4 separate regions of the Homo sapiens genome follow, and all the other regions are reported to be linked to region 1. The links are microRNA targets in miRTarBase. Many come from high-throughput screens and were not tested one by one. Region 1 holds a microRNA gene; each other region holds the end of a gene's coding sequence.

Evidence for each region. The annotated mature microRNA hsa-miR-4493 reads AGAAGGCCUUUCCAUCUCUGU and lies in region 1 at 3,785-3,805, opposite strand. An mRNA with a match to its seed (bases 2 to 7 or 8) in the 3' UTR can be bound and repressed. Matches are read on the target gene's strand: a 7mer-m8 pairs with bases 2 to 8, a 7mer-A1 pairs with bases 2 to 7 and ends in A, and an 8mer does both.
Region 2: miRTarBase lists DNAAF2 as a target of hsa-miR-4493. The part of its 3' UTR that is shown has no 7-base or 8-base seed match.
Region 3: miRTarBase lists SRP19 as a target of hsa-miR-4493. Seed matches in the 3' UTR shown: 7mer-m8 at 2,192-2,198.
Region 4: miRTarBase lists TMEM127 as a target of hsa-miR-4493. Seed matches in the 3' UTR shown: 7mer-m8 at 2,122-2,128 and 7mer-m8 at 3,172-3,178.

The regions. Positions count from the first base shown.
Region 1 is chr11:123,377,657-123,384,894 of GRCh38, forward strand. MIR4493 (microRNA 4493) reads right to left here and starts at 3,856; the gene lies at 3,784-3,856. It also overlaps a transcript of GRAMD1B not described here. RefSeq lists enhancers at 4,442-4,521, 4,682-4,761.
Region 2 is chr14:49,619,457-49,626,694 of GRCh38, reverse strand. It overlaps DNAAF2 (dynein axonemal assembly factor 2), which reads left to right. Exons shown (of 3, transcript NM_018139.3): 3 at 647-1,521. The coding sequence ends at 1,153. RPL36AL (ribosomal protein L36a like) reads left to right here and starts at 6,069. Exons shown (of 2, transcript NM_001001.5): 1 at 6,069-6,133. It overlaps MGAT2 (alpha-1,6-mannosyl-glycoprotein 2-beta-N-acetylglucosaminyltransferase), which reads right to left and starts at 5,896. Exons shown (of 1, transcript NM_002408.4): 1 at 3,214-5,896. The coding sequence starts at 5,426. The coding sequence ends at 4,083. RefSeq lists silencers at 5,405-5,514, 5,815-6,024 and enhancers at 5,246-5,796, 6,185-6,294.
Region 3 is chr5:112,866,505-112,873,504 of GRCh38, forward strand. SRP19 (signal recognition particle 19) reads left to right here. Exons shown (of 5, transcript NM_003135.3): 5 at 900-3,284. The coding sequence ends at 1,033. Among named protein-coding and RNA genes, the nearest start is that of SRP19, 8.7 kb to the left of the region's middle.
Region 4 is chr2:96,247,959-96,254,958 of GRCh38, reverse strand. It overlaps TMEM127 (transmembrane protein 127), which reads left to right. Exons shown (of 4, transcript NM_017849.4): 3 at 1-126; 4 at 844-6,445. The coding sequence ends at 1,151. Among named protein-coding and RNA genes, the nearest start is that of TMEM127, 15 kb to the left of the region's middle.

The DNA of each region.
Region 1 (7,238 bases):
ATCTCTGAACTAGACGTGCTCCCTGACCTCTTCCTGCAAGTAACATTCAGAAGAGCTGGAAGATAATATACACTTAGAAGGTCCAGTGGCTCTCCATTTGTTATTCTTCCAATGGAAGACCCTGAACTAGGAACTTGAGGAGAAAGATTAGCCATCTAAAGAAAAGACTTGCAAAAGATCTCAAACTCAAATGAAATGGATCGCCTTCCACCACCATGCGCTTCCAGCTGAAAAGTGGTCATGTGTGTGTATGGCAGTGGCTCTGCCACCTTCTATGTGGCTCCTTTGTGTTTTAGACTGAGTATGGAAAGGTGCTCAGCACACTCTGTCCTTTTTTCCCTGTTAGCATAGGTATATTTCTGTGTCCACAGGTACAAAGCCAAGGACCTATGTGTTCTAGTGGTCAGAACACTGGACTTGGTAATGGTTATCAAAGCTACTGTTTATTAAGCGTTTTCTCTGCACCAGGGAGGTAGTCGAAGGTGCTATCTTACTTCTGAAGATGCTGAGGCTTGAAGACATTGATTAACTTACCAAGACCGTGGAATTAGTAAGAGGAAGACCTGCATTGGCACCCAGGTTGATCTGACTTCAAAGCCTGCATTTTTTTTACTGCCTATGGCAATCTGTCTCCCAGAAACCAGAACAACTAGTTTAAATTCCCAGCTCTGCTACTCCCTAGCTGAATATTTCATGACTCTGGCCCTCAGTCTGTCAAATGGAAGGGTTGTGCTAGGTGTTTTCTAACATTCCTACTAGTTCTGAAGTCCAGTGCACTGTCTAAGGCTTTTATCAAATATATGATTTGCAAAACTTCTCTCCAATTCATCAGGTTGTCTTTTGCTTAGTTTTAAGCAGGACTTTCATGAGTATAATCTCAAGCAGTCTGGAATGTATGGGGAAATGGTAGGAGAAATTCTTTGATTACTATTTATTGAGTGCCTCCCCAAGGATATAGCAGAGACCAAAACTGTCATGGTTCGGCCTTTGAAAAACCAATGAAGCAGGGAAAACAGCCACTGAATATGTTACAAGGGTTGAGTGTTATGCAGAAAGATTACAGCATATGTAGGCCCTTCTGAGGGTAATTCATGTGAATCTGGTTCAGCCAGTTCAGTGAACATCTGCATGTATCCCAGACCAAGCAAGCAACAGTATTTATTTTATTTTCATTAATTTTTAAATTATTTTTCTGCTTAGAGTCTTCTCATGCACAAGAGCAATAGGATTTAACATCTAAATGTAACAGGTGTGACAGGCCACCTGTGTTCAGTCTTCTCTTGTTATTCTTTTCTTTTTTGAGGCTTCTTACATACCCCAGTTTTGATGGGAGTTGGCAGGGCATGTGGAGTTGTACAGTGTCAGTCTAAAGAGGAACAAGGGAAGATGGAGATAAGGAAGAAGTTAAAGTTAAATCAGGGGTTAAAGTTAGAGGGATGGAATGAGGTAAAAATAATGAGTTATACCTTAGGAATGTCTCCCAAATTCTCGCTTACTGCAGCAGGAAGCATAGGTTAGAAGGGAGAGAAGAAAAGAACCACAGATTCACAGTCTCTCTGATTTGAACGGGACCCAATAAGACATGTGGTCCAACCTCATCTAATTATTCAAATGGCATCTGCAACATCCCAGGAAGACTTTCAGTTTGAATGCTTTCGTTGACGGATGATGCCTACCTGACAAGGCAGGCCATTGGATTGTAGGGCAAGCTCAGGCTGTGAAGAGAGACACTGCTTTTTGTTGAGATATCTTAAAAAAAAAACAAACTTCTATCTTCTAGCTTTAATTCTGGCCTTCTGTGTTCTTTCACTTAATGTTTACAAAGTTCATCCATGTTTTAGCATTTATCATCACTTCATTCCTGTTTATTACCGAATAATATTTCATTGTATGGTTAATATCACATTTTATTTATCCAACCATCGGCTCATAGATATTTGGGTTGTTTTTACTTTTCAGCTATTATGAGTAATGCTCCTGTGAATATTAGTGCACACATTTTTGTGTGGACATGTTTTCATTTCTCTGGGATATACACCTGGAAGTGAAATTACTGGGTCATATAGTAACTGTATGTTAAACACTTTGAGTGACCGCCAGACTATTTTCCAAAGGACTGCACTATTTTACATTCAGTGTAAGTATATTGCATATATATGCGGGTTCTAACTTCTCCATCTCCTCGTCAGCACTTGTTATCATCTGTCTTTTATGTTATAACCATCCTAGTGGCCATGAAGTGCTATCTATTGTGGTTTTGATTTGTATTTCCCTGATGGCTCATGACGTTCAGTATTTTTAAATGTACTTATCGACCATTTGTATCTATTCTTTTGAGAAATGTTTATTTAGGTCCTTTCTCCAGCTTTAAAAAAATTATTTTGTTATTGAGTTATAGTTCTTTATATATTCTAGACACAAGTCTCTTGTCAAATATATGATTTGCAAAACTTTTCTCCAATTCATCAGGTTGTCTTTTCATTTATTGATGGTATCCTTTGAAACACGAAACCTTCTAATTTCGATGACGTCCAGTTCACTCACCCTTTATTGCTTGTCCTTTTGGTGTCATAGCTAAGAAACCACTGCCTAATCCAAGGTTACAAAGATTTATGCCAATGCTTCTGAGAGTTTTATAGTTTTAGCTCTTACATTTAGGTCTTTGATCCTCATGGTCTATTTTTAAAAAGCAAGTTGTATGACATTTAAAACTCAGATACTCAGTCCTCATTAAAACTTCATCTGAAATCAAGATTAGAGGAAAAAGAGTTTAGCAGAGTCCTTCCTTGCAAGTGACCCAAAAGGTTGCAGTTTTATAAGACAAAAATAGACTAGACATCTCCAGAGACTTTATTATGACTTTTATTAGGACTTTATTATGACTTTCATTAAGGCTTGGGTTTCGAGGTGTTCAAACCTGCAAATATGGGTGATAGACGGATGGACCCTTTGTAGTTGGCGTTAGGTGATAAAGAGAATAGGAGGCTGCTGCCCACCGCCGTTTCAACACGGCCAGCAGCTCTGCTCTCTGCCTCCTGTCCTGTGTCCTTCCTCCTTTGGATCTCTTGGCCTGAGATCCTTTCAGATGGTGATTTTTGGTCCCCTTTTGTCCACGTAGTTGCTTACACATGCTAGTGCACCCCCACAGCCTCATGTCTGCCTGTCCACCCCATCTCCCTCCTCATTCTGGGACTGGAGACAGTTTGGTTTTTTTATGTATCAGGATAATGACCACCTCTTTTTCTTCCCATATGAGCTCCCACTCCCTTCTTCTCTACGTACCTTCCTTGGAGCTAATTCACACATACCTCAGGGTGCTTCTTATTTTTCATGTTTTTTTTCTCTTCCTATAGATAGAACTCATAAGGTTTCCATGGAAACCCCTGATCAGAGGTAGGGGATTCTTGAATAGAGGTGAGATACACAAGCTTTGCTCATTTCTGAGGGGCTCTGGGAGTGTCTCCCTCACTCCTCCGCCAACTCCCTCTCCAACTCTTCCTGGGTCAGCTCTTGGGTCTGTCTCTATAAGATGCTTCAGGAGCCCCCAGAACTTTGTCTTAGGATAGAACAGATGGTGGTGACGATGGCCCTGAGAGTCCGGGCTCTAGGAAGAGGCTGCTGCTGGGTGGGTTGTTTGGCATCTGCAGAAAACCTGAAATCTGGTGTGTTTCCCAGGAAAAGGGAAGTGCTTAATGGCAATCCAATTCTCCCTATTGCGTCATGAGACAAGTCCTGGTTAGGAGAGCTGGGTCCCAAATTACCAGCATTGTCTTCCTCTTATTAGACAGAGATGGAAAGGCCTTCTGGAGGTAAAGGCATGGCTGTGATAATCACCGGAAGGCCTTCCCATCTCTGGTTGAGATTCTTGTATGCCCGGTCTTTATATGAATGGCAGGTCTTAGGCATGCATATAAGCAAATTAACATGCTGGAACTGGAAGGGATTCAGAGTCGAGGTTCTAATATATAGGTTGAAGGTTCCTGGAGGACTGCAGAGTTACAGCAAAGGCTCTAAGAGGCCATGTGTGCACTGAATGCTGCCTGGGGAACAAATACATCAACGTGGTCACCATCTCTTGGAACTATGCTATTTTTTTAAATGATAAAAATTAATCCCATACTTGAAAAAATTGCAAACTACTGATTTGTTGTAGACCTATTACCTTGCAAATGAAGTAAACAGGGGCTCAGACAGCAAGAGTGAGGTGGCGACTAGCCTGAAGTCAGCCAGCTAGGACCGGAGGCTTGGGGTGGGGTAAGTGTTAGTGGCAGCACCTACTGCTCTGTTTACCCACACTGTGGAAAGTGCTATACTGGGAAAAGGAGGCCTCCTCTGACCAGCAAGTGCCTACTCCTGCAGCTCAGAGCCTGAGAAAGAAACTACACATTAAAAGTGAAACTGAGGTGGTTTCATCTTCCCAGAATAAATGAATGATATCAGTAGAAAAGCTAGGGGATTTTTCTGGGGATTGGGGGGAAGGGAGTTCAAGGAAGCAGCAGTTCTGAGGATACTGATTTCATTCATTATCTTTTTGAAAAATAAATTAATATTTTAAATTAGGTTCCTAATCACAGAGTGTGAATCATAACAGAAGGATTGGGTGGCCTCCCTTTCAAGACCAGCGCTGGGAAGAGCTTTGAACCTGAGCCTAACTGTGGATTTAGATCTGGTGCACTTCTCCCCACTTCTGTACCTAGGCCAGTCAAATCCAGAACTTGTTTTTTTTAGGGGATTTCAGAGGAGTTGAGAACACGAAGGTCCATAATTAAGCATCATTGATTTTTAAATTATTTTGGCTCTGAGGTTTAAACTGGCATTGAACTCTCAGGTTCAGTTTAGAACTCTCTTATATTGTGAAAACTGCCTCAGTGTTTCCATTCTGAAGACCTTGCAGTTGCTTGATTTGCATATAGGAGTGTGATATTTAAGTGTGTGGGAAAGTGGATGAATGTGGGTGACTATGTTATGCGTTTGTGAAAAAGCATCCAGGAATATAGGTGATCATGTGGCTTGTCAGGACTTGGCAGGATGCAGATGGCACACTCGGATAGGGTAATGGGGGGCGTTTAAGAAAGGGACTCTCTTTAAAGGTGTGGGTAAAGTTAAGGGATATCAGCAAAGGATAAATGGAGCAAAGGATAAATGAGGCAAGAGAGGTCACCTGACCTGAGCTGTGGCCTTGGGTGCAGAGATGCAGTCAATCCACAGGAAAGTAGCAAGGGAGAAGCTGAGGGACAAGCCCCTGTCCCAATTCTCCTCTTGCCCTCCTGTATCCAGCCAGTGCCTCCCTTGGCAGGACCCAACCAGAAGCCAGAAGGCAAGAGAACTGGTTACACTTCTCAGAAGGGCCAGCCTCCTGGGTCACAGAGCAAGATGGGGCTGTGGGGCTGTGTAGCAAGATGGGGGGATCTACTCTACACATGCAGAGTGGATCCAGAGTTGAATGTGTAATGGTAGGTCGGGTAAAATCTTACTGTGAGAACACTCAGGCATTAACTGGGGCTGACCTGGACTTGAATTTAAAGAGTGCTTCCTACTTCAGAGTCTTGCTCTCTCTCTCTCTCTCTCTCTCTCTCTCTCATTTCACCTATTCTGCTTCTTTCTCCCTGTGGTAGGGAAGAACCTAGTTTCCAATGTGTGGCATCTTGATTAAATGGAAAGTACATGGGCTATGGAGCTAAATCATATTAGCTTGAAATTTTAGCTCAGCCACTTACTGAATGTGAGCCTTGGGCTAGTTACTAACCTTGCAAGTTCCAGTTTCCTCATCTGTAAAATGTTGGTAATGTTAAACTCCTTGCAAGGTTGATATAAGAATTAAAGACTATGTATCTTTATCTGTGTCAGTATCTTCATCTCCCAGTATAGTGGTTCATTCATGTTAAGTGTTCAATAAATACTGGCTATTTTTCTCATATCCACCACCTGGGCTGTCGGTCACACCTACTCATTTTCTCTTATACTTTGCTTCACGAATTCCTTCTTCTTTCCTACATCATTAATCTTTTGCTCTCTAGTGGGTCTTTCGTTTTTATTTCTTAAATACACATCTCCCTGATGTTAACAAAGAAACCTCTCTCCCAACCTAAATTCTTCTCTAGCTTCTATATTTTGGCTATTGTTCCCTTCATGAATATATATATATATATATGAATATATATTTCTTTCTATTTGTCCATTAATGCATCTATCCATCCATCTTTATTTTTATTTTTATTTATTCATTTCTTTTGAGATGGAGTCTTGCTCTGTTGCCCAGGCTGGAGTGCAGTGACGCGATCTCAGCTCACTGCAACCTCCACCTCCTGGGTTCAGGTGATTCTCTTGCCTTAGCCTCCTGAATAGTTGGGATTACAGGCATGCACCACCACGCCCAGCTAATTTTTGTGTTTTTAGTAGAGATGGGGTTTACCATGTTGGCCAGGGTGGTCTTGAACTCCTGACCTCAAGTGATCCACCTGCCTTGGCCTCCCAAAGTGCTGAGATTACAGGCATGAGACACTGTGCCTGGCCCATCCATTCATCTTTAAAAATCAGCATACATGTATTGCCCTAAGTGTCTTACCACCTTTTGACTTCTCAACCCCCTGCAGATTTGTTTGTTTTCTACCATTGTGCCAAAAATGATCTCAGCAGTCTCTAATTAATTTCCCAAATGCCAAATCCAGTGGCCTATTTCTAGACCTCATCCTGCTTCACAGCATTTGACATTCCCAATTATGTCTTTCTTCTTGAAATACACTTCCTCCTTGGTCTTTGTGCTGCTGTATTTTCTTGGTTCTCAGTGTTCCTGCCCAGGTAACCCCCTTCCCCTAAACCCTCTAGTCACTTATGTTTTCTTTCTTGCACACAAGTGTAGATGTTGCTAGTAATTGATTATTTATTTGACTGTTTCTTCCTGTTGCTCCTCCTGTAACATTCAGGAGAGCAGGGGTTTTATCTGTTCTGTTTATTGTTTTATTCTCACTACTGAACCCAGTGTCCCAGTGCTTGATATAAAGTGTTAGCAAATACTACTTGAATGAAGAATAGATTTAAAATTTATTCCTCCAAGGTAACTCTCTTAGCCTGCTTCTCAACTATATCCTCCCCACATAGACATCTGTGACCTCTTTCTTTGGACTCTAGATCATGGGTCAGAAAACTTTTTCTTAAAGGACCTGATAGTCCATATATTTAGCTTGCAGGTCATATGGTCTCCATCACAACTACTCAGCTCTGCCACTGTAAAGCAAAAG
Region 2 (7,238 bases), not on the chromosome of region 1:
CTGTGTCTACTAAAAATACAAAAATTAGCCGGGCGTGGTGGTGCATGCCTGTAATCCCCTCTACTTGGGAGGCTGAGGCAGAATTGTTTGAACCTGGAGGCAGAGGTTGTAGTCAGCTGAGATTGTGCCAGCCTGGGCGACAGAGCAAGACTCCGTCTCAAAACAAAAAAAGTCATCCTTCAAATGCTGCCTGTCTTTTTCTTTTTTTGACAGGGTCTTACCCTGTCACCCAGGCTGGAGTACAGTGGCACTATCTCGGCCCAGTGCAACCTCCACCTCCCGGGTTCAAGTGATTCTTCTGCCTCAGCCTCTCAAGTAGAGGGGATTATCAGGTGTGCTCCACCACACCCGGCTAATTTTTGTGTTTTTAGTAGAGATGGGGTTTCGCCATGTTGGCCAAGCTGGTCTCGAACTCCTGACCTCAAGTGATCTGCCTGCCTTGGCATCCCAAAGTGCTGGGATTACAGGCATGAGCCACTGTGCCCAGCCTGGAGGATGAATTTTGACAGGAAAGCCTGGATGTATACCTGCAGGTCTGTAAGGGCTATTACCTCACAACTGTTAAAAATTTTATTTCCAGAGGGTAGTACAATTTAATTTTGTATTATTTAAAATAATTATTAATTTGTTGTTTCTCTTGACACAGTTGCAAGAATGTAGTAACTCTGATCAGCTACAAGGAAAGGAGGAAAGAGTAAATGAAGAAAGTCATCTAACTGAAAAGGAATATATAGAACATTGTAACACCCCTACAACTGATTCTGATTCATCTATAGCAGTTAAAGCACTACAAATAGATAGCTTTGGTTTAGTTACATGCTTTCAACAAGAGTCTCTTGATGTTTCTCAAATGATACTTGGAAAATCTCAGCAACCTGAGTCAAAAATGCAATCTGAATTTATAAAAGAAAAAAGTGCTACTTGTTCAAATGAGGAAAAAGATAACTTAAACGAGTCAGTAATAACTGAAGAGAAAGAAACAGATGGAGATCACCTATCTTCATTACTGAACAAAACTACGGTTCACAATATACCTGGATTCGACAGCATAAAAGAAACCAATATGCAGGATGGTAGTGTGCAGGTCATTAAAGATCATGTGACCAATTGTGCATTCAGTTTTCAGAATTCTTTGCTATATGATTTGGATTAATTCTATATAATTTTGGACTTTTAAATATTAAGGTTAAAAAATACCTGTATCTAAAATTGATTCTGTTAACTGTTGTCTTAAAACTAAAGGTATTAAAGTATAAAATTAAAATTTGCAATTTTTTTTAAAAAATTGCAATTTTGATTCTCATGGGGGAAATTGGAGATAATTTTTTTTTTTTTGCCTCTGGAGTTTAAAGTTTCCTTATGGAGATAAGTTTTGTGATTCCTGTAATAGATGTGTATGTTTTCTATTTGAGAGTTAAAACATTTGAGAGTTAAAACATTTAGTTTTAATACAACCTATGTATATATACTTCTGTGTTAAATTTTGCTTTGTCATTAATAAAATTTAAAAATATTCACTAATTGTGTTTGTCACACAAAGTAATTCTCAAGAATGCATTTAACTGGAATTATAAGTACATGTGTGGGGGGTAGAATTTCAAAACTGTTTCTCAGTCTCACTAAGTAGGACATATTTAAGCTTGAAATAGAGCTTAGAGGGGAAAGAACTTTACTAACCAATATTAATCTAAACAATTACGATACAAATTCACCAGATAAAATGTAGTACTTTTCATCAGCTCTATATTTTGTCACACAAACTATATATATTTTTGTTACATAAAGTATATATAATAGATTTAGTTATTTAGTAATGATTTTCAAAATTCAATTTTGAAGTATTTCTTAGAAGTTATTGAAATATTAAAACATCTTGTGGTTTTATAGAAATTTAAGAGTAAAACTGGAATTTTTAAAATCTGGCAATTTGCTCTGATAGGAAAATTGCCTTCATTACATTATTACACAGAAAAACAAAAAAAAGCCAGTGTTTCCTAATCACTTTCTTTTTTTTTAAGAGATGGGTCTTGCTATGTTGTCCAGACTGGATTCAAACTCTTAGGCTCAAGTGATCCTCTCATCTCAGCCTCCTGCATAATCAATTTCCTTTATAACACCTAAAATGTGAGGCAAAGAGAAGATCCTAACAGGTTTTTTTCTTACAAAAAATTTTAGGGCAGCCAAAGAAAATGAAAGGAAGGAAATACAGAAAGGGAAATATTTGTTGATTTAATCACTAACCCCAAAGCCAGGAGCTGATCTATTTGTTTCAAAAACAGCTACTACTTCACACTCTGGCCTTCTTAGCTCAGTCCTGGAAATAACCTAATTTTTTAGTTCTTTGAACTAGTGATGTCAGGTCAGAGTACCAGAAATAGGTACAAAGCCTCCTGATTCACCCTTATTTATAACCCCCAGGCAAAATCTTGCACCAGACTGGGCCGTGGGTAAGTCTAAAGGTAGCTCGTAAAGCAAGAGAACTATTTGCCTCACCTTAGATAAGCATATGTGCTCTTAAACTACTATGAATCTTAAATTGATGCAATAATTTTGAGACTGCCATTTAATAGTTACAAGTTTAAGTAACTTTTTTTTTTTTTCTTTAGATGGAGCCTTGCTCTGTTGCTCAGGCTGGCGTGCAGTGGCACGCTCTAGGCTCACTGCAACCTCTGCCTCGAGACTCAAAGGATCCTCCCACCTCAGCCTCTCAAGTAGCTGGGACTACAGATGCACCACTACACCCGGCTAATTTTTTGTATTTTTAGTAGAGATGGGTTTTCGCCATGTTGCCCAGGCTGGTCTCAAACTCTTGAGTTCAAGCAATCTGCCTGCCTCAACCTCCCAGAGTGCTGGGATTACAGACATGAGCCACCACACCCAGCCCGTAATATCTTTACACAGAAATTAGTCTTTTATGAGAAATTCTCGGTTGAATGCAATTACAAATTAAGGGAAACTTCTATAAACGTCTACATTAAATATGGAGCAAAATTTAAGCCTGTTTCCTATAATTTTCTGTATCTGTCCTTTTAAAACGTATGATTTAAGTTAAAGCTGGCACTAGAAAGTATTTCACTTTGGCATGACTGAACTTTGTATCATTTCTGGCTTTCAAAAACAATTTAGGCTGTATTTCCCTTACACAGCAACTTTTTATCATTCATTTTCAATGCCTGGGTAATTTGAAAGCCAAACAGTTTCTTGCACAGGGAATGCATTGTCATAAGCTGGGTTTTATTTCAAACTCAATTATACAATGTAGCAATAGTAAATATTAAAATGTAATGCTAACTCAAAACTTGTAGAATGCCTTCACTGAATTTTGGTATAAAGAGTAAACAAAACTTATTCTGCAAAAGGATTAGGAACCTTTTTATGCAAAAATGAGTATTTTATTTTGTCAGCACTAAAAGAAAAAAAAAAACAAAACCACTGTATTTCTACATTGAGGTGAAAACAATGTTTAAACTTTCTTATCAATCAAATACATTCCAAAAGAAAGTGTGTTCTATGAAGGTTCCAAAACACACTCAAAACACAATAGTACAGGAATCTAATACTGAAAATGACTGTTCTGACAGGGTGTTTAACAAACATAACTTTTAAATTATTAAACCAGTGAAGCAATCCCTTCCTAATAAGTGTGTCAAGAGAGTGAAACTGGGTTTGTTCCATTAATACCCTAACAATTTCATCGTAATACTTTTTACTGCTATGACAGTTTTAAATAAATTTTGCTGTACTTAAAATAGGTTTTGAAAGTGGAAAAGTGTACAAAGTTTCAGATAAAAAGATTAATAAATGCAATTTAAATAAAATTTCCCCTCTTCTCTCATATCAACAATAATCAATTTTAGCAGATAACAGATTGAGCTTTAAAACCCTACTCCCAAAATGAAACCTTCAGTTTTAAATCTTAATCAGACATAACTGGAAAAGATTACTATGTATTTGGACACCTTTTACAAGATTTTGTTTTTGTATTAAAGCAGAAACCAGTTCCTAAACTCTTTTATTCAATTGTATGTCCTGTTTGGACAAATATCAAAAATAGAAGACTGTCGCTTTTGTAACTGTGATTTTCACTGCAGTCTTCTATAACTTTTACAGAGTTCATGGTCCCTAATATCTCCCCACCCTCCATTTTTTCTAGGTGGGGAAATGGCTACCACAGTAAACTTTTCACTGATAGTTAGAGTTTCTGGAAACATGTATTGTTTGTTATTATTTAAGAGTGACTCAATTTGGGCACTCTGAGTGGATGGTCTACAGGTTTTCTTGTGATGCATACCACAGTCTCCAGCATGAAAGATCCTAGGAATTTGAGGAACCAGCACTTTCCAGAATTTTGGAAGACAAGATACAGTCAAGTATTGAAGAGTCCAGTCCCAGTTATAATCATCATAAGTACAGAAAGTGTCTGTGCACTCGATCAGCTTCTGATAGGCATTCCGGGTCAAGGCTAGACCCATATTGTGCTCTGTGGATTTCCAAGTTTTCACATCTACCTTGTCAGCCATGCCATAGAAACTGCGACTGGCACTATAGGTCCCCAGGGAGAGAACATCACATTCAGGGCACTCTTGCTGCTTCAGTTTCCACATCTTTTTGAAGACATGGTAAAAGTCTGGGGCTAAGTAGTGATCCTCTTCTAGGAAAAGTATAAGGCCAGCATAATCTCGAAGAATTTTCACTCTTTCCCACACAAAATGCAGCTTCCACCACCAGTGATGTTTGGTCTGGGAGAATTTGGCCTCTCTATAATGGCCGAAGGAGTCGGGATACTCAGCATTGATGCACCCCAATTTCAAAGCGGCATTCTTCGGCAGGTCTCTGGGACAATCTCTAGGGTCACTACCTGGAAACTCGTTAGGGTACAACTGAATGCTGAAAGGAAAGAACACCTGCAGAACCGGACAGAAATTCACCCCGGCGATCAGCTGATTGATCTCGGTCGACCAGAAGTCATGGCTAAAGATGACGAGGACGTTGTCAATTCCCTGGGCTTTTCGAAGTGAGTCCAGCAGCAGTCTGAGGTATTCGGGCCGGTTATGCACCTGGACCACCAGCACCAGCTCCCGGGGGGCCCAGGTGCCAGCCTTATCTACATTCCTCAGGGTCTGATCAAAGTTCAGCTGGTACACCAGGGACCGGTACCGCAGCGTCAGGTTGTCCGCCTCGGGCTGGGGGACCGCCGGGACCAGGGAAGCCGCCGACACGTTGGAGACCCTGCGGATGCCCACAGCCACAGAGGGGTGGTCCCCACCGCGGCCGCCGGCACCCCGCGCGGGTTCGGCGTCCAGCAACGGTGGGGCGAGGGCCTCGTTCTTCCTTTGTCGCCCATTGCTGCTCCAGAGGACGAAGCCGCAGGCGGCCACCACGAGCGTCAGGATTAGCACCTTCCGTTTGTAGATGCGGAACCTCATGGTCTCCAGGGCCGGGAGCGCAGGCGGGCGGGCGCGGAAAGGAGCAGCTGCTTCTGCACGGAAGGGGCGGGCGGGCGGCGGCCGTCGCCTTGGCCTGTCACGGTCGGAACTGGCCCCCGCGGCTGCCCTCGCTAACTCATCCCGGGCCCCGGGGGTCCTGGGGCCCGAGACCTCTCATTTACCCCGCGCCGCCTGCGCTCCACACATCCTCGCCTGGCAGCTACAGCTCGAGCATCGGCGCCGCCGCTAGGAGCCGCGGCTCGGCTTCGTCTCCGTCCTCTCCATTCAGCACCACGGGTCCCGGAAAAAGCTCAGCCGCGGTCCCAACCGCACCCTAGCTTCGTTACCTGCGCCTCCAGCGGCCCTGCGTCCTCTGCGCTCTCATCCTTACAGGGGCCCTAGACGGCCAGAACTGAGCGACGCGGCCTCGCCTCACTCCGGCGGGGACCGTTATGACAACCCGCAACTGCCCCGCGGCACACCGCGGCCCTCCGGCCCACACCCCTCCGGCCCGCCCCTTAGACCGTTGGTTGGTGCTTTCCAGACGCGACCGAAGGCGCCTGACCGCCGTGGCCGGCTGCCTATTGGTTTGCAGTACTGTCGCTCAGGTGCAGTTCCCACTTCCGCCTGTTTCTTCCCTTTCCTGTTAGGCGAGAGCTGCGAAAGGCGAGAGCTGCGAAGGGCCAGGTGTCGGGCGCTGTTTCTCGGTAAGCTAAGAACGAGGCTGTAGCGGCTCCAATAGGAGCCTCCCTTGCTCAGAATCCTGGGTAGGACTAGGCCTTCTTAGGAAAGGGAAGGCGAGACCTATGGCCCTCGCCGGCCTTAGTTCGAGAGCAGGCTTCTCCCTTCAGGAAAAAGGTCTCAGGCATGGCGGCTATAGAATCGCGGGGCGCGCCGGCTTGATAAGGACACGTCAGCCCTCGAGGCTGCTGACGGGTGACTGTGCTTCGGAGGGGAAAAGTGATACTACGCTGATGTGGTTCTCGTAGAAGGAACGGGGCGGGTCGTAACCGTAGCTACAACGTCGCGCGCTGCCCCAGCCATTCTCTAGAGCTGGAAAATGGAGGAGGTGGGTGGGGGGAAGGGGGTCAAAGAAACTCTGGTCCTTAACTTCCTTTTCGGAAGAAAATTAGATGAACCGCACTTTTCTTTTGGAGCAGTCACAATAAATTAAACTCATTTCGTACGGAAAACGGACTGTATTGGGCCTCCTAAAGCTGCTGCTGTCGGTTTTCGTGAGTCTTGTTCTATATGAGAAAAGAAGAATGGCTCGGAGCATTGTTAATTATTTGAGATGTGCAAAATTTGCCGGGCCCAGAGAGACAGCAGTATGGGACTTCAGACACCTCCCCACTTAATGCCTGGCATTTTATTCCTGACTAGCTGCTTCACCCATTATGTCCGCGTTCCTGGAATTTGTCATGAAAAGAATGATGTATAGCCAATCAATCGCTTGTGTTATTTTAATGTAAATTCTTGGTAGACAATTTAGGAACTGCCATTTTTTCCTCTAAAAACCCACTTGCAACTGCTGCTACTCAGGGCATTTTGAATCTGTGCTCTGGGTTGCAATCCTCAAACTTGCCCCAAATAAACATTCTACTTATATGAATTGTGCCTCAGTTCTTTTTTTTTTTTGAGACGTAATTCCGCTGTTGTTGCCCAGGCTGGAGTGCAATGGTGCGATCTCGGCTCACGGCAACCTCCGCCCCTCCCCACCCCGCCCAAGCGATTCTCCTTACAGGTATGCACCACCACCACGCCAGGCTAATTTTGTATTTTTAGTAGAGACGGGGTTTCTCCATGTTGGTC
Region 3 (7,000 bases), not on the chromosome of region 1:
TTTTTTCTAGAGATGGGGTTTTGCTATGTTTCCTAAGCCAGTCTCAAACTCGTGGACACAAGTGATCCTCCTGCCTCAGCCTCCCAAAGAGCTGAGATTACAGACATGACCCACTGGGCTCAGCCTAAAATAGATTGTTTTTTATATACTAAAACCCATCAGGATTGGTAGGTATTGCTAGATGCTTCAGGTTGTGACTAAGGAGTGACATCATATTCTGATATGTTTTTTCTCCTTAACATTTTCCTATATTATATCTCAAAAGACCAAAAACAAACAAAAACTTGTAATTAACTAGTAGATAAAATAGGGGTAGAAGTTGTGGTGAGAACATGTCACTTCCTATTTCCAGTAAGACCCAAGTAAGATAGTAAAAAGAAAGCAGAGCTGAGGAACTTGGTCTGTTGGGGGTGAAGGTAGCTGGTTGTAGGTGTGCAGAGCAGGAATGCATGTAAGTGTAGATCATCTGATCTTACCCATCGGATCGCTTGTAACTTGATGATACTGTTTTTTTGTTGTAAGACTGAGAAAACCCTGTATTTCAGTGTCTTAAGATACAGTGATATTCTGACTCTGTTTCTACCTGAGGTATATTTGGATACATACTCCTTAGATCTTCAAGCTGATTACTAGGACCAAACCAAAATTTTTGTTTCATACTTAGTGTTTTGCCTTTTGATTTTATTCATTTAAATATTTTCAGCATTATTCTCACTCTCAGTACATTTCCCCCGACTTGAGCTAGTCAGTGTCTTCAGTCATTTGATTTTTGATTTTTTAAAAAAGTTATTTTCCATTTTCTTGATGTGATAGTTTCTTACACTTTGTGATATTCAATTTGATGACTTTTTATGTCTTATTTCTCAGATTATACACTAAGCCTAACTTCTGGTTCCTAGGTAAGTCAGTAATGTTGTATGCAGCAGAAATGATACCTAAACTAAAAACAAGGACACAAAAAACAGGAGGTGCTGACCAAAGTCTTCAACAAGGAGAGGGAAGTAAAAAAGGGAAAGGAAAGAAAAAGAAGTAACCTAGTATCAGCATCAAGTATGTGGTACTACTGTAAGAGACATGAATGGAGACTTCTAATTTGTATCGGAGGGAAACAGAAGCTTTTTGTTTGCATCATTTAACTGAACTGTGAACCCTTGTGCCTCTCATCTTTATCATCGGAGTTGACAGTGAAACAAATTTACATCAGAAGTTTGCATCTCGCGTATATGCCGTATAAAAGAATTTTTTTGTCTTTCAATGCAGTTTTTTGGAAGAAAATATTTTTAAATGGACAATGGACTGTACAATAAGTTACTTGAAATAAGTTGTTTCAGATAAATTTCAATTAGATTTAAAATAAACATTTTGTCCACCTTTTAAGTTAATGAAATAAAATTTGAAACTGACTTTTGCAGCTTTTGCTTATATACTAATGCTAGGAGAGGAGGGATAATTAAGAATAAAATATGTAGTGAAAGTTTCCATAGTGTGAGGCTAAAACTAGAAGAAACTGTGGTAGGTCCTTTTGTGGGTGGGGGACAGGGGAGTCTGTAAAAAGCCAGTCTGTAGATGATATTTTAATATATTATTGTAATCGAATCGTTCAGTTGTTTTTTGACATGGAAAGTCCTGGATTTTAAGCTTTAAATTTGCTTATTTTGTAGGTTTAAGAACATGATTTTCATGGGAGTTGTAAAATTAACTGTGCTTTAGCACCTTGAGGTACACTTTCCTTCAACAAATGAAATTGGATTGGTGCTCCAGAATTTCAGAGCGGTTTCTGAAAGTAGTGATTTTGAGCTATCCCAATTCCTGTTCTTCCTGAGGCCTGGTTTAGCTCTTCCTTGAATTCTGCAAGCTATCTCATATTTTCAGTAAATTCCATTTTTTTTAAGTTTGTTTGTTTGTTTGTTTTTGAGATGGAGTTTCACTCTTGTTGCCTAGGCTGGAGTGCAATGGCACGATATCGGCGTACCACAACCTCTGCATCCCAGGTTCAAGAGATTCTCCTGCCTCAGCCTCCCTAGGAGCTGGGATTACAGGCATGTGCCACCACACCCGGCTAATTTTGTATTTTTAGTAGAGACAGGGTTTTTCCATGTTGGTCAGGCTGGTCTCGAACTCCCGACCTCAGGTGATCTGCCCACCTCAGCCTCCCAAAGTGCTGGGATTACAGGCATGAGCCACCGTGCCCGGCCTTCTTTACATTTTTATTGCTCACAGTCAAACATTCCTATTGATTGTAAAATAAGCAAACCTAGAGTTGTGGAGATTTATATGTATTTATTTATTTGAATTGAGACAGGGTCTTAAACTCCCAGGCTCAAGTGATCCTCCTGCCTCAACCTCCCAAAGTGCTGGGATTACAGGCATGAGCTAGCTGGCCTGTTGACTTTTTTTTTTTAACTCTAACAATTTCTGTTTTATAGTGAACATAATAGTATAAGACTTAGTTTATATATTTGACTTACAAATAAATCCTGGGGAGAGGGGAGTATGTGTAAAACATAATTCAGAGCAGCCTTCTTTGAGAAAGTGGGTGTGTTTGGCTGTGTAACAAAACAATAAGGGGATGTGTTTGCTGTGTAACAAAACAATGAAGGATTTAAGCAGGATATTTTTGCCTCATATGTTAAATCCAAGTGAGGTTGCTGTGGTGGTTGGTTTAGCTCTCAGTGATGCCTTTTTTGTATTTTTCCGCTCTGCTGTCCATGACATATTTCTAACACCTTTATGATTATTGTTCCTGCTTGTAAAAGGGCTGATATTTACATGAGTGCAAGGCAGGAAGAAAAGGTAGCTGTGCCAGCCACTTCTGGCAAGCAGTTCTCCCACCTTAGCCTCCCAAGTAGCTGAGACCATAGGCATGAGATTTCTCAAAATTCCTCCCAGCAGGCTTTCACTTAGTTTCATTGTTGAGAACTGTGACAGGTCCATCTCTAGCTGCAAAGGAGGCTGAGAAAGTGAACACAGCAGTCCTCCTTATCCTTGGGGAATACATTCCAAGAGTGGATCCCTGAAACAGCAGATAGTACTGAACCCTATATATACTATGTTTTTGCCTATGTATATATACTTGATATGGTTTGGCTGCTACCCAACCCAAAATCTCATCTTGAATTATAATCCCCAAATCCCTATGTGTTAAGGGTGGGACCAGGTGGAGATAATTGGATCATGGGGGCAATTTCCCCTGTGCTGTTCTTGAGATAATGAGTGACTCTCAGGAGATCTGTTGGTTTTATAAGTGCCTGGCGTTTCCCCTGCTTGCAGTCACTCCATCTTGCTGCCCTGTGAAGGTGCCTGCTTCTCCTTGCCTTCTGCCATGATTGTAAGTTTCCTGAGGCCTTCCCAGCAATGCGGAACTGTGAGTCAGTTAAACCTGTTTCCTTTATAATTAATCAGTTTTGGATATTTCTTCATAGCAGTGTGAGAATGGATTAATACATACCTATGATAAAGTTTATAAATTGGACACAGTAACAGATTAACAATAAAATAGAACAATTATAATAATATACTATAATAAAATGTATGTGGAAATTGTCAGTCTCTCTCAAAATATTGTGCTATACTCACCTGTTTTGGGACCAAGGTAACTGAAACCACAGAAGTGAAACCACAGATGAGGGATGACTGCATAGCTTTTTCAGTCCTGACAGCCAAGGCAGCTAAGGAAGAAAGTAGTTGAGAATGCATACTGGGTCAGGTACAGTGGCTCACACCTATAATCGCGGCACATTGGGAGGCTGAGGCAGGAGGATCACTGAAGTCCAGGAAGTCGGGACCAACCTGGGCAACATAGTGAGACTGTCTCTACAAAAAAAAGAATTAGCTGGGCATGGTGGCACATGCCTATAGTCTTAGCTACTTGGGAGGCTGAGGTGGGAGGACTGCTTGAGCCCTGGAGGTGAGGCTGCAGTGAGCCGTGATCATGCTATTCCACTCACCTCAGCAGAGCTGGACCCTGTCTCAAAAAAAAAAACGTACTGTGGTAGCCAACTGAAAAGATTTGTCACAGAAAGATGGTTGAAATCTGGAAATGGTTTACTTTTGGGGCAATAAGGATTGTCAGTGCCATATTTTGGATGTCCCCTCCAAAATGCATGTTGAAATTTAATTGCCATTGTGATGTTATTGAGAGGTGGAACCTTTGGGAGGTGATTGGGCCATGGGGGCTGTGCCCTCAGGAATGGATTAATGTTACTATCTGAGGAGTGGGTTTGTTATAAAATGGAGTTCAGCCAAATTTTTCTTTTGCTCTCCTCAGCGCACCCTCTTTGTCCTCTCACCTTCCACCATGGGATCACACAGCATCAAAGACCCTTGCCATATACAGGTGCCATGCTTTTGGATTTCCCAGCTCCTAATCATGAGCCAAATACACATTGCCCAGGCTGGTGTGCAGCGGTGCGATCTCAGCTCACTGCAATATCTGCCGCCTGGTTTCAAGTGATTCTCCTGCCTCAGCCTCCCGAGTAGCTGGGATTACAAGTGCCTGCCACTGTACCCAGCTAATTTATGTAGTTTTTAGTAAAGATGGGGTTTCACCATGTTGGCCAGGCTGGTCTTGAACTCCTGACCTCATGATACACCACGCCCAGCCAATTTCTATTCGTTTTTTAAGATACCCAGTCTGTGGTGTTCTGTTGCAACAACATAAAACACTAAGATTTCAGAACTATTGCTGTAACAATATATTGCTGTTTCTTCACATTATTGCAATTGGTGCAATCAGTGAATTTTTTTTTTTTTTTTTTTTTTTTTTTGCCAGTTGTTAAGTGAAAACTGTAATCTTTTTAAAACAGGCCAAAAAATGTTTTTTTGAGACAGGTCTCTCTTTTTCACCCAGGCTAAAGTGCAGTGGCACAATCACGGCTCAGTGCAGCCTCAACCTCCCAGCCTCAAGTGATCCTCCCATCTCAGCCTCCTGAGTATAAAAGTTTGTAATTAAAAAAATTTTTTTTTAGAGGCCAGGTGTGGTGTGGCTCATGCCTGTAATCTCAGCACTTTGGGAGGCTGAGGCGGGCAGATGACTTGCAGTCAGGAGTTCGAGACCAGCCTGGCCAACATGGTGAAACCCTATCTCTACTAAAAATAACAAAAACTAGCCAGGCGTGGTGGTGGGCGCCTGTAATCCCAGCTACTCGGGAGGCTGAGGCAGGAGAATCACTTGAACCGTGGGAAATGGAGGTTGCAGTGAGCCAAAATTGTGCCACTGCACTCCAGCCTGGGTGACAGAGTGAAACTCCGTCTCAAAAAAAATTTTTTTAAGAGATGAGATCTCACTCAGGCTGTTCTTATACTCCTGGGCTCAAGCAATTCTCTCAAGTGGTTGGGACTAGAGGTACATGGCACCACACCTAGCTGAAAAAGGGAATCTTAATGAGACAGTTGAGTATTTATGTAGATGTTGAAGTGCTTTTCGTATTTATGAACTGAGTTCGCATCCTCTACTCACTTCTTAAGGAATCTGTTATCAGAATTATATATAATTTTAAAAGCCAGCTAGTTTTAATAGTGTGTTTCTGTTTTAGGCATTAACTTCCATTTGTAGAAGAAGAGGATTTAGTTTTTCTTCTCTACCATATGCTTGCATATTTCCTATCTTCCTAGCCTACCAATATATTTCATAATTTAACCACTATTCAGAGTTTACATTATACATTCTGTTCACAGCTCAGCCGTGTAGTACATTTGCTACTAAAAGTATGGTTGAAGGACCAGCAGCACTGGCCTCTGGTGAAAGATTGTGAAAAATGCAGTATCTCTGGCCCCAGCCCAGAATTCAGATGTGTTTAATGAGATCCCCAAATGATTCTTTTTTTTTTTTTTTTTTTTTTTGAGACAGAGTCTTATTCTTGTTGCCCAGGCTGGAGTGCAGTGGCACAATCTCAGCCCACTGCAACCTCTGCCTCCCGGGTTCAAGGGATTCTTCTGCCTCAGCCTCCCCAGTGGCTGGGATTACAGCCATGTGTTACCATGCCTAGCTAATTTTTGTATTTTTAGTAGAGATGGGGTTTCGCTGTGTTGGCCAGGCTGGTCTCCAACTCCTGGCCTCAAGTGATCCGCACACCTTGGCCTCCCAAAGTGCTGGGATTAGGTGTGAGCCATTGTGCCCGGCCTCATCATTTTAAAATCTTTTCTGTAGTCCTTTGCCTGGCTCTGATCTCTTACCCTTTAGACCTAGTGCACAACTTCACTCTGGGTTCTCACCATTGTCTGGAGTGACTCAAGCCACTGCTTTGCTGTTTTGGGGATATCTGTTGTGTATCCCGTGTATTCCTCTTTTTTATGTTACTGCTTTGTTTTGTATATCTTGTTCTCAGGATCTTCCCCAGAAAAGTGCAAGAGAGGTAAATGTTCTTAGACCTTGCATATTTGAAAATTTCATCATTCTACCCTTACATTGTTTGGCTGGATATAGAATTACCTTTGGAAGTCATTTTGTTTAAGGAATTCAAGGGAATTGCTTTTTGGTCTTCTGACCTCTTGTAGCTGAAGGGAAGTTGTAGCCATTCTAGTTTATTATCATGATCCTGGTTCCAGTATTCTGAAATATAACAGTTGTGTGCTTTGTGTGGGTCTTTTTTTTTTTTTTTTTGCCCATCGTGCTGGGCAGCTAAGTGGGTTTTCAGTCTGGGAATTTGTGTTTTCAGCTCTGGGAAAGTTTTTTGAAAATTTCATTGATAATTTTTCTCCTCTTTCTGACCTTTCTTGGTACTCTTTTATTTGACTATTAGACCTGCTGGTCTGATCCTCAGGTTTTCTTTTTTTTTTTTTTTTTTTTCTTTTTTGCCTTTATTTAGATTTGCTCAGCTTTATTTTCCAACCTTTCCTATTCTTTTTTTTTTTTTTTTTTTTAGATGGTGTTTCACACCGTCACCCAGACTGGAGTGCAGTGGCCCGATCTCGGCTCACCGCAACCTCTGCCTCCTGGGTTCAAGCGATTCTCCTGCCTCAGCCTCCCGAGTAGCTGGGATTACAGGCATGCGGCATCAAG
Region 4 (7,000 bases), not on the chromosome of region 1:
TCATCGCCGCCTTCTGTTTCCTGGGCATCCTGTGTAGTCTCTCCGCTTTCCTTCTGGATGTCTTTGGGCCGAAGCATCCTGCTCTGAAGATCACTCGTCGCTATGCCTTCGCCCATATCCTAACGGGTAAGCCGTGAGCCTGCTCACAGTGGGAGAGGAACTGCTACAGGGTGGGGGCATCCTGTCTGAGTTGCCGGTGGGGGCTCTGGTTTCTCTGAGCAGGCACCCTTCCAGGAGCTCATGTGCCAAGCTCCAGTCTTTCCCAGAGTGTCAGGGTGTCAGCAGCCTGCTCCAGTCTAGCTGCTAACTTGCCAGGATCACAAACCCACTCAGCCCAGCTGTAGAGGGGAAATGTTGCTAGAAATTCCACAAGGAAGCTCACAGCTCTCTAAAATGGCATTTGAAGCTCAGACCTGACATGAGTGAAGAAGGAACCAGGCAGTCTCCCGTGTCTCCCCTGGAGCTCCTGGTCAGATTCTCTCCTCTCCACCTTCCTGCTTCCCTACAGACCCGCCTTTTCTTGTATGTAGCTGCTGTCCTCCCTCGTGCCTGCACTGCTGTGCTGGTTTGAATTGTGGTGTGCCTACTCCAGCTCCCAAGCTGCATGACCCTATTTGCTCCTTAAGACAGATGGAATCTGACTGGCCTAGATCAGGTCAGACTGCTGTCCCCAACCTCAGGCCAGGAATCCCATGGTCAAGAGAGCTCCTCCTTGCAGAGTCTGGGGCCAGGCAGGTTCTCTGAGAATGGGGTTTGGGTAGAGAGGCTGTGATTGGGTCCTCAAGCATCCTAGCTGTGGAGTGCTCACTAATTCCCCTTCTGTGCTGTCCCTCTGTCTCCTAGTTCTGCAGTGTGCCACCGTCATTGGCTTTTCTTATTGGGCTTCTGAACTCATCTTGGCCCAGCAGCAGCAGCATAAGAAGTACCATGGATCCCAGGTCTATGTCACCTTCGCCGTTAGCTTCTACCTGGTGGCAGGAGCTGGTGGAGCCTCAATCCTGGCCACGGCAGCCAACCTCCTGCGCCACTACCCCACAGAGGAAGAGGAGCAGGCGCTGGAGCTGCTCTCAGAGATGGAAGAGAACGAGCCCTACCCGGCGGAATATGAGGTCATCAACCAGTTCCAGCCACCCCCTGCTTACACACCCTAATGCCAGCCCTGGGCTCTCTTCCTCGGCAGCCCCTCCCTCAACTCTGCAGCTCCTCTCGCACCCAGAGGAGCTCCTTTCCCCAGCAGGCCTCACTGGTAGGATCCTGACCATCTTCTCCAAACCTTCCCCAGGAGAGACTCTGCCTTTAGGGTCATCCAAGTATCCCTGCTCTCAGAACCGGAGGTCCACTGGTTTTCTATAATGTACTCTTTCCCTCCTGCCACATCCTGCCCCCTTCACATTCACGAGTCATTACCAGCCAGGGAAGGTCATCCAAGTTTCCTCCAGCATGGGCGATATCTTTGGGACCGAGACTTTCCTTGGAGAGCTGCTGAGAGCGGACAGTCCCAAAAACAAGTGTCAAAGGGCCCAAGGGAAAGGGGACTGTGCCCTGGAGGCTCACTTCACAGGGATCAGTGTTTGCTCCACAGCTGTAGCTCTGGGCTGACGCCCCCCAGACCCCTTCCTTCTCGGAGTGACCCGCCCCCAGGCCACCTGCTCCGGGGAGTTCTGTGCACTTTACTCTTTGGACTTCTCCTCACGTGTGCCCTGGTTTTATGGGGAGAGGGAATCGCTGTTGGGAAGGCAGAGCAGTTGCAACCCTCTCTGCCCTTGCTTCATGTGGCTGGAGCCCAGGCAAGGAGAGCAGGAGCCAGCGTGAGACTGAGGCCCCCTGGTGCCTATCAAGGACCAGAGTGAAGGGGACTACATCTCCCAGCCCTTCACCTTTTAAATATGAGTGGTTTTAAAAGGAAAAAAATGAAACCAGGCAACAGCAACAATATTCTGTTTTTAAAATAGGGACAAGACTGTTGTCACTTTTTAGACATGTATCCCATTCCTTTTGGCTCTGCAATATTTGGGGCTGTAGCTCCTTCCAAGCCCATGGTAGTCCCTCCCCGAGTCTCTCCCAGTAGAATGCAGCCTCCCTTCCCTGGCCCCTTCCCTCTCAGTGACGGTGACTCCCTGGGGCCTTCTCGTGGAACCCAGAGGGGCTGAGGACTGTGGCCTGGCTGGCGGGCCAGCGTGGTGCTCCTCAGGACTGCAGCACTGAGATGGAACCTGGCCTCAGTTTAGGAACAGGGGCCACAACAGGGCAGGAACCCACCACCCTCCACATAGGAATACAACCAGTGGGGCCACATCATGTGAGGCATCAGACCCACACTGTCAGCCCAGCAGGCCGGGCTGTGTCCTTCAGACCCAGTGCTGCCCTAGACTCTGACTCGGGACTCCAGCTTGCCACGTGCCCTCTCCCCTCTTGAATGTACTCTGGTCTTGCAGTGTGCTGCTGGGACTTTCTTGCTCAGCCATCACTCTGGTCACCTTGTTTGCTCTGGGTCTGGCTGAATTTTCTGCCCTGAGATCTGGGCATAAAGTGGATGAAACTTGAAAGACCTTCAGTGTAGATCCAGATGGCCAACCTGTCCTTGTTAAGTTACTTGCTTCTTGGGAATCAGTGTCCCCTGCTGAGCTGAAAAGGAAATGGATTCCAATCTCTTCCAACCTTTAAGGTGATAGATAGTTTGAGCAAGACTGGAGAATGGACAACACTATGAAGCTGTGGCTAGAAAGGGACTGTCATGTCCCATCCTTTGGCCAGATTGACTGGGGATGTCCGGACAGATGCCTGCATGGGTGGTGAGGGCCACATCTGCACACGAGCCAGTGGCTGCTTGCAGTTCACTGCTGTGATGCCAGAGTGTGTTCAAAGGTGACTCTCCTGCTCTTCTGGACTCTTCTCTCAGGCAAGAAAGGCTGCAGGCTGCCTGCTATGTGATGCCTGAGCACAAAGCCAAGGAACTGAACTAAGTCTTTCTGTTAAGTCCTGAGTTTGTCATTGGCAGGTTTACTTGTGGCCAGCTCTCTCTGCCCTTGGGTGTCTGAGCAGGCAGACCAGAAGACCAGGCACTGGACCTGCATGCCAAAGGGACTGGTCATCTCCTGAGGACCTGTAAATGACCCTGTGGACTGTTCCGCACGATCCGGAACCCACTTTTTATTCACTCCCCATGTCTTTGGCCTTCCTCTTCTTTCTCTTTCCCTCTGCCATCCTGACACTGATAGTTTGTCATATAAATTCCCCGGGTTGTGTTTTTTTTTCTAGAAAAAAATTAAAAGGGAAAACAAAACCAAAAAAACCAGAAACCACGAATAAGAATGGAAATGACAATGGCTGCCTGTCATTTTTCTGTCACGATTTTCCTGATTTGGTTTGTTCCCTTTGTCTCAGAGAAGCAGGAGATGTTGATGAGGCTGTATTTTTTTTTCTTTTTCTTGTTTTTGAGACAAGAGTCTCGCTCTGTCACCCGGGCTGGAGTGTAACGTGGCATGATCTCAGCTCACTGCAACCTCTGCCTCCTGGGTTCAAGCGATTATCCTGCCTCAGCCTCCTGAGTAGCTGGGATTACAGGCATGCGCCACTATGCCCAGATAATTTTTTTGTATTTTTAGTAGAGACAGGGTTTCACCATGTTGGCCAGGCTGGTCTGGAACTCCTAACCTCAGGTTATCCACCCACCTTGGCCTCCCAAAGTGCTGGGATTATAGGCATGAACCACCGTGCCTGGCCAAAGATGTAATTTAAAATAGTTAGAAGGGACTTGGCATGGGCCAGCTCCGTGCATGGCATTTTCACCCCCAGAGCTTCCTAATCCTGTTTTCACACAGGAAGTTTCTAGGTCTTTCTAGAACAGCTAGAAATAGTAGCTGACTCCCGCCCAAGGCCCAACCTTCAAACCCTGAGCTCTTCAGGCTGCATCCTCTGGTGAGCTATAGAGGAGAACGTGGCTCCTAAACTCTAGCCATCCTGTGGGAGGAAATAGACTTCTTTGGGCTGTGGCTTGCAGAACAAACTACACTTTTTTTCCCTCTATTGTTTAAATTTTATTTAATAATTTGTGTGTTTTTCTGTCTTTATTTTCTGTATTTCACGTGTTCCTTCACTCCCTAGAAACTGCACTTTCTTTGAAACCATAGGTAATGAATCTTACTAGGAGAGGCATGGGGATAGAGACAGTTCTGGGAGTGTGACCTGTAAGCCTCCTGTAGGGCAGTGCCAGGCCTTGATTGCCCACGTTCTCTCCGTTCCTTCTTCCTTCATACATTTGATCACACAGCCTACACCCAGCCCCGAGTGTGCATCACGGTAAAAGAGCTGAGGGCTCTCTTCAGGGAGCAGCCCATTTAGGTCTCTTTTGTTGTTGTTAGGGAGAATACACATCTTTCTTGGAAGCTGGGAGTGTGTTCTCATTTCATGTCCATTCAGACAAAGCACCATTAGGCACCATGAAATATACAGTGACGGACAGGACCCTGTCTGCAAGGATTTTATGTCCTTAGTTCAGGAGATGGACTTGTCCACAGAAAGGCAGAGTGAAGTGGGCGGCCGGCTCGGAAAAGTCCTGTGCCCAGAAGGGAGCCAGTTCTGACCTGAGTGATAATGAAAGGCTTCCTGGAGGACGCAGCTTGAGCCACACTTGATGTGGGAGTGAACTGGGATAGGGACACTCCTGCTGAGAGAATGGCAAGAGCAAAAGCACACTGGTGGCCAGGAGGTGGTAAGAGCCGAGGTTAGAAAGGTGAGGGGTGCTCATTTAAGGCACTAACAGCAGAAGGAGCCCAGGAAGGATTTTCAGAAGGGAAGGGAGGGATGCAACCTTATTTTAATGACTGGTGACAGTAGGAAGGGTTCTGCCTGGCCTTAAGTGAGGGTGTTGAAAGTGGGAGACAGGACCTGCCAAAGGGGAAGAGGGCGGTCACAGTCAATCCCAGGGCCCAGTGTCTCAGCCAGGTGCTGGAGTTGGGAATGCGGGAGCCCCAGTCTCTGCCCACCTGTCACGTGGCAGCTGGAAGGTGGCATCAACTGCACAGGCGAAGAGGGGCCCGCACACGAGAAGCCATGGGATGTGAAGGGCCGCAAGGAGAGGACCCTGGGACACAGGAAGAGGTGGTGCATCTGGGGCAGGGCGGCTTTCCCAAGATGACTAGAGAATCTTCAGCTGGCATCTTGCCTGAAATATCCACGCTCTCAGCCACTACACTAATGGAACACAGATGCTATGGGGAGACAGAAGGGAACTGACAAACTTCATGCCCCTGTTTTCAAATAGCCTGCAATCTTACCTCTTCCTCTGCATTTTTTGGGGGGAGTGACATTTTAATGGGAGGCAGGAGGTTTGTGGAGAAGAGAAAATGTTTTTTTTGTGGGGGTGGGTAGAGACAGTCTCACCATGTTGCCCAGGCTGGTCTCAAACTACTGGCTTCAGGCAATCCTTCTGCCTCCCTTCCCAAAGGGTTGGGATTACAGGCTTGAGCCACTGCACCAAGCCTGAAAATGTCGTTTTGAATGAGCCCACCTGAAACGAAGACGCTTCATTAGGGTTACTGGTTTGAGAATTAAGATCAGTTCTGGCCGGGTGCGGTGGCTCACGCCTATTATCCCAGCACTTTGGGAGGCCGAGGTGGGTGGATCACAAGGTCAGGAGATCGAGACCATTCTGGCCAACATGGTGAAACCCCGTCTCTACTAAAAATACAAAAATTAACCAGGCATGGTGGCAGGTGCCTGTAGTCCCAGCTACTCGGGAGGCTGAGGCAGGAGAATCACTTGAACCCGGGAGGCAGAGGTTGCAGTGAGCCGAGATCATGCCACTGGACTCCAGCCTGACAGAGTGAGACTCCATCTCAAACACACACACACACACACACACACACCACACACACACACACAGGTTCCTCACCATAAGCTTTGGGGAAAATTCTTGGCTTTTTTGCTGGGGGAGAGAGCAGTGCCCAGGGAAGATTGGCTGATCTCAGAGCTGGAGGGTTTATGCGGGACTGGCCAGCCCCTTCAGCTGAGTGGGACAGCAACACAGTGGGTGGTAAGGGGCTTCATAAGATGTACAAGATGAGGGAGAGGCCCCTCCAGCCAACCCTGTGTCTAAAGAGTCAGGTAACGAAGAACTTTCCAGAGACAGCTGTGAGTCCGTCTGGCTTAAGGGGTTGTACAGGTGTCTGAGAATGGGGCCTGAAGGTGCAGGGCCTGCAGGCTGCCCTGTTTGGAAGGTTCCTGTCCTTCTGTCTTGGTAGAAAATGGCAGCTAGCCTTGTAAAGGGCCTCCTTGTGTAGCGAGATAGACCATGTAGCCCCAGATGCCCCCATGGCTTCACTTCCCTCTTGGGGGTCTCTCAGTATATGTCTAGTGCCACCACTATTGGTGGAGAGTTTCCTTCTGGAATAACCTTGGGGTGGTGGATGGGTTTTATTTTAATAAAAGAAGAATGTCTCATTCATTTTTTCTTATTTATTTTTTGAGACGGAGTCTCACTTTGTTGCTCAGGCTGGAGTGCAGTGGCAAGATCTCGGCTCACTGCAACCTCCACCTCCCCGATTCAAACAATTCTCCAACCTCAGCCTCCCAAGTAGTTAGGATTACAGGCATGCACCACCATGCCTAGCTAATTTTTATATTTTTAGTAGAGATGGGGTTTTGCCATGTTGGCCAGGCTGGTCTCAAACTCCTGACCTCAGGTGATCCGCCCGTCTTGGCCTCCCAAAGTGCTGGGGTTACAGGGGTGAGCCACTGCGCCCTGCCCCGTTATTGATTCTTTCCATCTGTTTGCTTCCTCATATTCTAACGGGGTATGGGAAATTTGCTTGCATGTACACACATGCAATTTCTTTCCTTTTTTTCTCTTTTTCTTTCTCTTTCTCTTTCTTTCCTTTCTTTCCCTCCCTTCCTTCCTTTTCTTTTCTTTTTTCTTTCTTTTCTTTGACAGGATCTTGCTCTGTCTGGAGGCTGGAGTGTAGTGCTGCAATCATGGCTCACTGCAGCCTCAACCTCCCAG